Homo sapiens: one gene and its partner. The protein of the gene in region 1 purifies or fractionates together with the protein of each later gene. This does not show direct contact. Each region holds a gene or a part of one and is shown on either strand. Other genes may lie near its edges. The genes, in order: PROC and PROS1.

Region 1 (3,819 bases):
AGCAGTGCGATGTCATTGTCGGTGGTGCTCTTGCTGTAGTTGGGGTGGACGAAGACCTCCTTGATGTCCAGGTCCAGCTCCCACTTCTCCCAGCGCCGCAGGTCATACTCTCCTGCAGGGCAGAGGGCACAGTCAGAGTGGGCTGCGGGGAGCCTCTCCCCAGTGGCACTTTCCTGAGGCCCACCCACTGCTGTGCCCCTGCAGGCCTGGGCAGAGGGCCTGAAGAAGGTTCACCCGGAGACTGTGCACCCACACGTCCCAGGCACTGGCGCGGAGCCACCTGTCTATGCCGTGGAACCCTATCAACGGTGACTTTTCCTGCCAGAAGGAGTGGCCAACAGGTGTCAATCCCAAAGAGGTAGGATGCTGGTTGGTTTTCAGGAGTCACGGAGCCGTGAGACCAGAGAAGGAATGGGCAGCAGGGAAGCCCGAGACCCCTGGAAACCCCAGACACAGACCAGAGCCACAAAGGAACGTGGAGCAAAGGTAGCTGGAGAGACCCCAGGGGCAGTGAGACCCAGAGAGGAGGACCCCCAGAACACGGCACTGCCAGGGAGGACAGGGCCGGGTCCCACCTGAGAGAGAAGGTCCTCTCAGTCCAGACTGATGGTTCCCTGGGAAGAGCACCTGGGAATTCTAAGCCAAGCCCCACGGGGGGCCACTGGCCATAGATTATGCTGTAGGAAATGTGAATTTGGCCTTTCTCAATATGCTTTGCCTTCTTTTTGGCATAAAGAGTTGAGCCAGACCCCCCCTCCAGAAATTGCCATAGATCGGGGCCAATGCATAGGTGCCCCCAGCCTGCTAGGGAAGCAGCTTGTGGCTTTGGCAGATGCTAGGGCTCCCTCTGTACAGCTCCATCCCTGTCAGTCTGTGGGAGGCACAGCCCTGAGGCCAGGCCTTGCTGGTCTCTGCACCCAAGGGTGCTGAGGCCCACACAGCCTGCTCCTCATGAGTGGGAGTGGAGAGGTGAAGGTCTGTGTAGCCCCTCACAAACATGTGTGTGCAGGTACCTGTGCCCAGATTCGAAGAGGGCACCAGAGAACCCCCTACTGCAAAATACTGGGTGTACATGGGTGGGCAGGGTGGGGGCACATAGGCCTCTTCCCCCCAAACACCTTCTGTGGAGCTCAAGAAGCCTCTTGCTTAAGCACCTGGGGAGCGGGGTCCCCCAAACCTGAACAGCCTGCCTGGTCCCCCTACCCAGGCCTCTGGCAGCCCCCTTCTGCCTGGCTCCAGCCCATACCAAGCCTGACAAGGAGCTTCTTGGACTCATCCATGCAGTGGGCCGCTGTCAGCACCCAGGAGGGGTGGATGAGCACTGCCCCGCAGGCCAGCTTCTTCTTTGAGTCCAGCAGGACCACCTGGAATGGGGTGGGATGATGACATCACAGGGCTGCCTCCTGACAGCCTCCAGTCCAGGGCACCTGGGTTTCATATGCACTTTCCTGGGTTCCCTGGTCATATGGGCATAGGCTTAGGCCCTTTCTGGCGTTTTCTATTTTTGCCCATTTTACAGTGTCAGCCTGTCCCAGGGTGTCTTCCTGCCTTTGCCCATGCTGTTCCTGCACTGTTCATACTGTTTCAGTCACCCTCAGCCACACCCAACATCGCCCAGCGAGCTCCTCTCATCCTTAGAGGCTTGGCCAGGCCTTGTGTCTTCCAGGAAGACTTTGTGGCCCCCAGGCTGCCTGGATGTTCCCCTTGGGCCTCCCTCAGCCCCTATCTTGAAGGGCCGTCCTGGCTGTGGTCCCACTGGGCTGCCGGGTCTTTGGGGTCCTGACCCTTGCAGAGTCTGAGTCCCCAGGGCAAATACTCCCACTTGTTGGTTCCTATCTCCCCCATGCCTGGCAGAGAGGGGAACCCAGTAAGTGTCAGTTCCCATGTGGAGGCTGGAGGGGTACTCAGGCCCGGCCCTCCCTCCTAGCCCTCTCCCATCAGCAGGGCTTCTGCCTAAAATCCCGCCAGCAGAGCAGTGTCTTTCCAGCTCTTTTTAGAAACTGTAACCCTCCCTCCTGCAGACCCCTCCATGCCCCCATGCCCCTCCCCTCACCCACCCTGGCTGCTCCTCTCCCCTCAGGTTGCGTCCATCTTTCCCTGAAGCATCCCCCACCTTCATCATCCCCCAAACGCAATGGCAGCGCTTCCCTCTCGGTTTCTGCACCCTGAGCATAGCTGCCAGGATGGACTCAGTGATCCCGGACCCAGCACGTGAGCAGCCGGTGCTGCCTCGCCTCCCACCTGCCAGGGGCTGTCTCCCCGCCTGGTCATCTTCCCATCAATGAGCCGCGGATCTACTTGGTCTTCTTGGTCTTCTGTGTCTCGTTTCAGGTGACTGCGCTTCTTCTCCATCCGCTTCCAGGGCCTCCCACAAGGGAACTTCACTGAGGTAGGCAGAGGTGGTGAGGGGCCTGCCAGGCACTCCTCCCGAGACTGCCCTCCTGTCTTGGTCCTCCTCCAGCCTGTGGGCCACTTTGCCACAGTGCAGGGTTCAAGGAACCAATGATACTTAGACCACTCCATTAATATTAGCTATGAACCCCCTCCAGTCAGCCAGTCAGTCAGTCAGTCAGTCAACAAACAGTGCCACTGAATGGTAAGAGTCAGACCAGGCAGCATCACCCACTGGCTGTGTGTCCTTACATAGGTTGTTAAACTTCTTGAAGGCTCATTGTACCCCAGGGCTGTTGGGGGTAATCCCTGAGATACAAATTACAAACCCCCTCCAGTCAGTCAGTCAGTCAGTCAACAAACAGTACCACCCAATGGCAAGAGTCAGGCCAGGCAGCATCGCCCACTGCCTGTGTCTCCTTACATAGGTGGTTAAACTTCTTAAAAGCTCATTGTACCCCAGGGCTGTTGGGGGTGATCCCTGGGATTAGTAAGGTCTCATAATGGGATGCTGCTGAGCTCCTCACAGAGGAAAGGAATTACAGGGAGAAGGAGGTGAGCATTCTTGGAGAGCTCCTACAATAGGCATGGCATGTTTGTGAGGCCTCCCTGCCAAGAAGAGAGCGCATACTCCATGGAGAACTGAGGGCTGAAAGGTCGGCCCGACTCTGCTCAAAATGGGCCTTGAATGCCCAGTCCAGATATCTAGACTTAAAAGAGCAATGGGACGTCGTCAGCAGGGGAGCTGCATCATAACAAAAGAATGGAAAGGGCACAACAGCAACAATTCCAGAAGCTGACAGCAGATGGATGGACACAGTAACTGACTTGGCAGACTGGAAAGCAAAAATCTCAGCCCGTGATGGGGGCGCCCAGAAGCTGAAGGACTGGACCACGGAACCATAGGAGGCTGTGGGGCTTCCAGGAAGGCAGTGCAGGTGGGAGGGCATGTTGAGAGTTTGTAAGAGAAACTGCGAAAGCCCTCCTCACTGACTTGACTCCCCTCTCCCTGCCTGCAGAAGGTGAACCAGAGGCTCTGACTAGGGACTTCAGGCCCCGCTTCAGGAAGGAGTGGTGCTCTTAGCTGACCACAGGGAGTCATGCAAATGTCCACAGCCTGCACAGGCACCAGCTCCCCTGCCCCACCCTGCTCTGAGGGGCCGAACACCATGGGTGAGCGTCTTCCATCCTCCAAGAGCTTGGAGGAGTCCTCTTAGAAAGCAGCCTAAAAGGAAAGCCCTCACGATCTGGGGTTCTGCCAATGACAGGGCCTTCCCAAGGCCTTGCAGGAAACCCACAGGCCAACAGGCCCACCAGGCATTTCTTTGCAGCTTCCTGGAAATATCTAATTATTTCAAAATAAAAAGTTAAATTTTTAGATCTTTTTTTACTTTTTTTAAAAATAGAGACAGGGTCTCACTGTGTTGC
Region 2 (3,819 bases), on another chromosome or scaffold:
ACCTCCCGAGTAGCTGGGACTACAGGTGCCCGCCACCACACCCGGCTAATCTTTTTGTATTTTTAGTAGAGAGGGGGTTTCACCGTGTTAACCAGGATGGTCTTGATCTCCTGACCTTGCGATCCGCTCGCCTCGGCCTCCCAAAGTGCTGGGATTACAGGCGTGAGCAGTGACAATAGTTGTAGTATCTAACTACCATCAACTATTGCAAAACAAACAGTCTGGGCACTGTTTAACGTGCTTCAAATATATCCACTTGTTTAATTTTCAAAATAGTCCAGTGAGGTAAGTGCTATTATTATCCCCATTTTACAGATGAGGAAACTGAGGAAGCTGCAGGACCAGGGTGATAACAATGAAGATGATGGACAGTAAATAGATCGGAGATATGTGTTAGAAACAAAATTAATAGGATTTAATAACTGAAAGACAGGTATAAGGATGACTTTTAGGTATCTGGCATGAGCAGTTGCATGGATGGAGATTCCATTTACCAAGATGGGGAAAACTGGAGGAAAAACAGATTCATCTTTAACTGAATATTGGAAAATATGAAATTGGCACCAATATTTCACTTTAAATGGAAAATTAGAGGCAGAAAGTTATTTAGAAGCATTTTCAGATGACATTTGCAATTTATTCTCATGGGGAGAATTCTGAGTTTGATGTCTGGACCTCTGATAACCTTCAATATACTGCTTAAACTGCTCATGGTCTTGATTTCCCATATATGGAAATTGTATCTGGGGTTTTGGGAAATAGAAGTAAATAGGCTTTAAAAGCTATAGAAAGACAGACAGATAGATAGATGATAGATAGATAGATAGATAGATAGATAGATAGATAGATAGATAGATAGATAGAGGTAAGTAGTGAGCATGCCTAATTATTAGGGAGTAAAATTATAGTTTAAATGAATAAATTCTATATTGAAATCTACCTACTACCTTATCCACAAGTTAGTTGAATGCAATTTTAGGAAATCAAACCAACAAAGAGTTTAAAAGAAGTAGAATTATCAAAATTTCAGTGGTTTCGGGATTTTGGCAACAGCACTGAGGACTAACTTCAGGCAAAATGTCTTGAGAGAAAGAGTGGGGAAGATTTGAGAGGAGCTAAATATTGAGATATTAAGAGTATAAACTGTGAGATGGGTAAATTATTAATTACATGCAAAGTAGGCATGTAAAATTCCATGTGAAGTACTAAAACCCAAGAGAAATGAATGATTTTGAGTAATTTCTTTCCTCAAAATCGAATGAATTTGAGTAATTTCTTTTCTCAAAAAAGGAAAAGTGGCATAATCTATGATGTTTAGCCCAACTTGAAAGGGATTCTTAACAAATGCTATGAGCTCACAGTCATAGTAAAGTAGGAACTTTATTCACTGTGTTGGCAAGTTAGAAGTTGAAAATTTAAAGGTTTTTTTTTGGCATAAGGTACTGAAGATGAAGAATAAGGGCTAAAGAATATCCATTGTGAGTTAAGATTAATGGAGAGGAGAGGCCAAAAAAGAGGAAGGAAAATTGTTATTTTTAGGAACTCTAAATAGTACATGAAAGTGAATCCTGTATCATGACCTATTGTATGCTCAACAAAAAAATTGTTTCTTTGGAAAAATACAGAAATCTGCTTTTATTCCAACAATAATAAAAGAGATATATTGATCATGACATTTAAAAGAGATTCCCAAGTAGCTATAATTTGGAGTTAAGAAAATGATTTAACAATGCTTAAACTGTTGCTTAAGTTTAAAGAGAAAATAGTATGTTATTTGTATAATAAAAATAGAATATCACAAGAATATGCTTGTTTCTACTCTCCCTCAAATGTGTTTAAGTTTAAATGGAACTAATTGTGTTTATGAAATCTGAGGAACTCATGACATGCTGAATTCAATGAAGTACAGTAACATGTATATCGGCGTCACTTAACATGTATTTATGGAATAGAATTTCACTATTAACTTTTCCTTTAGGATTAGAATTTGGTTGGAAACAGGAAGTCTGAATGACTTCTCTCACTGTAAACAAACAAGATGCTAAAAGTCTTGGACTAATATTCTAATATTTTCCTTTTACAGATGTTCCATTCAGTGCCACACCAGTGAATGCCTTTTATAATGGCTGCATGGAAGTGAATATTAATGGTGTACAGTTGGATCTGGATGAAGCCATTTCTAAACATAATGATATTAGAGCTCACTCATGTCCATCAGTTTGGAAAAAGACAAAGAATTCTTAAGGCATCTTTTCTCTGCTTATAATACCTTTTCCTTGTGTGTAATTATACTTATGTTTCAATAACAGCTGAAGGGTTTTATTTACAATGTGCAGTCTTTGATTATTTTGTGGTCCTTTCCTGGGATTTTTAAAAGGTCCTTTGTCAAGGAAAAAAATTCTGTTGTGATATAAATCACAGTAAAGAAATTCTTACTTCTCTTGCTATCTAAGAATAGTGAAAAATAACAATTTTAAATTTGAATTTTTTTCCTACAAATGACAGTTTCAATTTTTGTTTGTAAAACTAAATTTTAATTTTATCATCATGAACTAGTGTCTAAATACCTATGTTTTTTTCAGAAAGCAAGGAAGTAAACTCAAACAAAAGTGCGTGTAATTAAATACTATTAATCATAGGCAGATACTATTTTGTTTATGTTTTTGTTTTTTTCCTGATGAAGGCAGAAGAGATGGTGGTCTATTAAATATGAATTGAATGGAGGGTCCTAATGCCTTATTTCAAAACAATTCCTCAGGGGGAACAGCTTTGGCTTCATCTTTCTCTTGTGTGGCTTCACATTTAAACCAGTATCTTTATTGAATTAGAAAACAAGTGGGACATATTTTCCTGAGAGCAGCACAGGAATCTTCTTCTTGGCAGCTGCAGTCTGTCAGGATGAGATATCAGATTAGGTTGGATAGGTGGGGAAATCTGAAGTGGGTACATTTTTTAAATTTTGCTGTGTGGGTCACACAAGGTCTACATTACAAAAGACAGAATTCAGGGATGGAAAGGAGAATGAACAAATGTGGGAGTTCATAGTTTTCCTTGAATCCAACTTTTAATTACCAGAGTAAGTTGCCAAAATGTGATTGTTGAAGTACAAAAGGAACTATGAAAACCAGAACAAATTTTAACAAAAGGACAACCACAGAGGGATATAGTGAATATCGTATCATTGTAATCAAAGAAGTAAGGAGGTAAGATTGCCACGTGCCTGCTGGTACTGTGATGCATTTCAAGTGGCAGTTTTATCACGTTTGAATCTACCATTCATAGCCAGATGTGTATCAGATGTTTCACTGACAGTTTTTAACAATAAATTCTTTTCACTGTATTTTATATCACTTATAATAAATCGGTGTATAATTTTAAAATGCATGTGAATATCTTTATTATATCAACTGTTTGAATAAAACAAAATTACATAATAGACATTTAACTCTTCATACAACGAAGTAGTTCTTCAGTTAAAAGACAGATAAAGCTCCAATATTTGAATAATATTTATGGTTGGGTGGTAGACTGGAGCTCAGAAGGTGAAGAGAAGCAAAAGTAACATGTATCTTTTGACACAAACCATAAATTGTCTTGCTAAATATAATTTGTTTCCCAATTGCCACCAGGTACTATGGGGGATGAATATCAGCAAGTGACTATTGATAATTACATTCATGTAAAAGAGCAAGGAAAAAGAAAAACAGAGAAAACATACATGAGAGAGGGAAAAAAAAGTGAAAGAAAGGGGCGGAGTTCCCTGCTTTTCATTTGATTATGCCACATACAGGTCAGATATAGGGATCAATTCTACCTTTC

The links.
Region 2: the proteins of PROC (region 1) and PROS1 purify together in Homo sapiens (affinity purification with mass spectrometry; one large-scale study listed by BioGRID and IntAct). This does not show direct contact.

What each region holds. Positions count from the first base shown.
Region 1 is NC_000002.12:127,424,650-127,428,468, reverse strand, and holds part of PROC (vitamin K-dependent protein C isoform 10 preproprotein), read right to left. Parts: intron 3,770-3,819; exon of another isoform or gene 2,385-3,769; coding exon 2,242-2,384; exon of another isoform or gene 1,365-2,241; coding exon 1,247-1,364; exon of another isoform or gene 205-1,246; intron 113-204; coding exon 1-112. UniProt on the Homo sapiens protein: Protein C is a vitamin K-dependent serine protease that regulates blood coagulation by inactivating factors Va and VIIIa in the presence of calcium ions and phospholipids. Exerts a protective effect on the endothelial cell barrier function.
Region 2 is NC_000003.12:93,872,670-93,876,488, reverse strand, and holds the end of PROS1 (vitamin K-dependent protein S isoform 2 preproprotein), read left to right. Parts: intron 1-2,083; coding exon 2,084-2,244; 3' UTR 2,245-3,438; downstream 3,439-3,819. UniProt on the Homo sapiens protein: Anticoagulant plasma protein; it is a cofactor to activated protein C in the degradation of coagulation factors Va and VIIIa. It helps to prevent coagulation and stimulating fibrinolysis.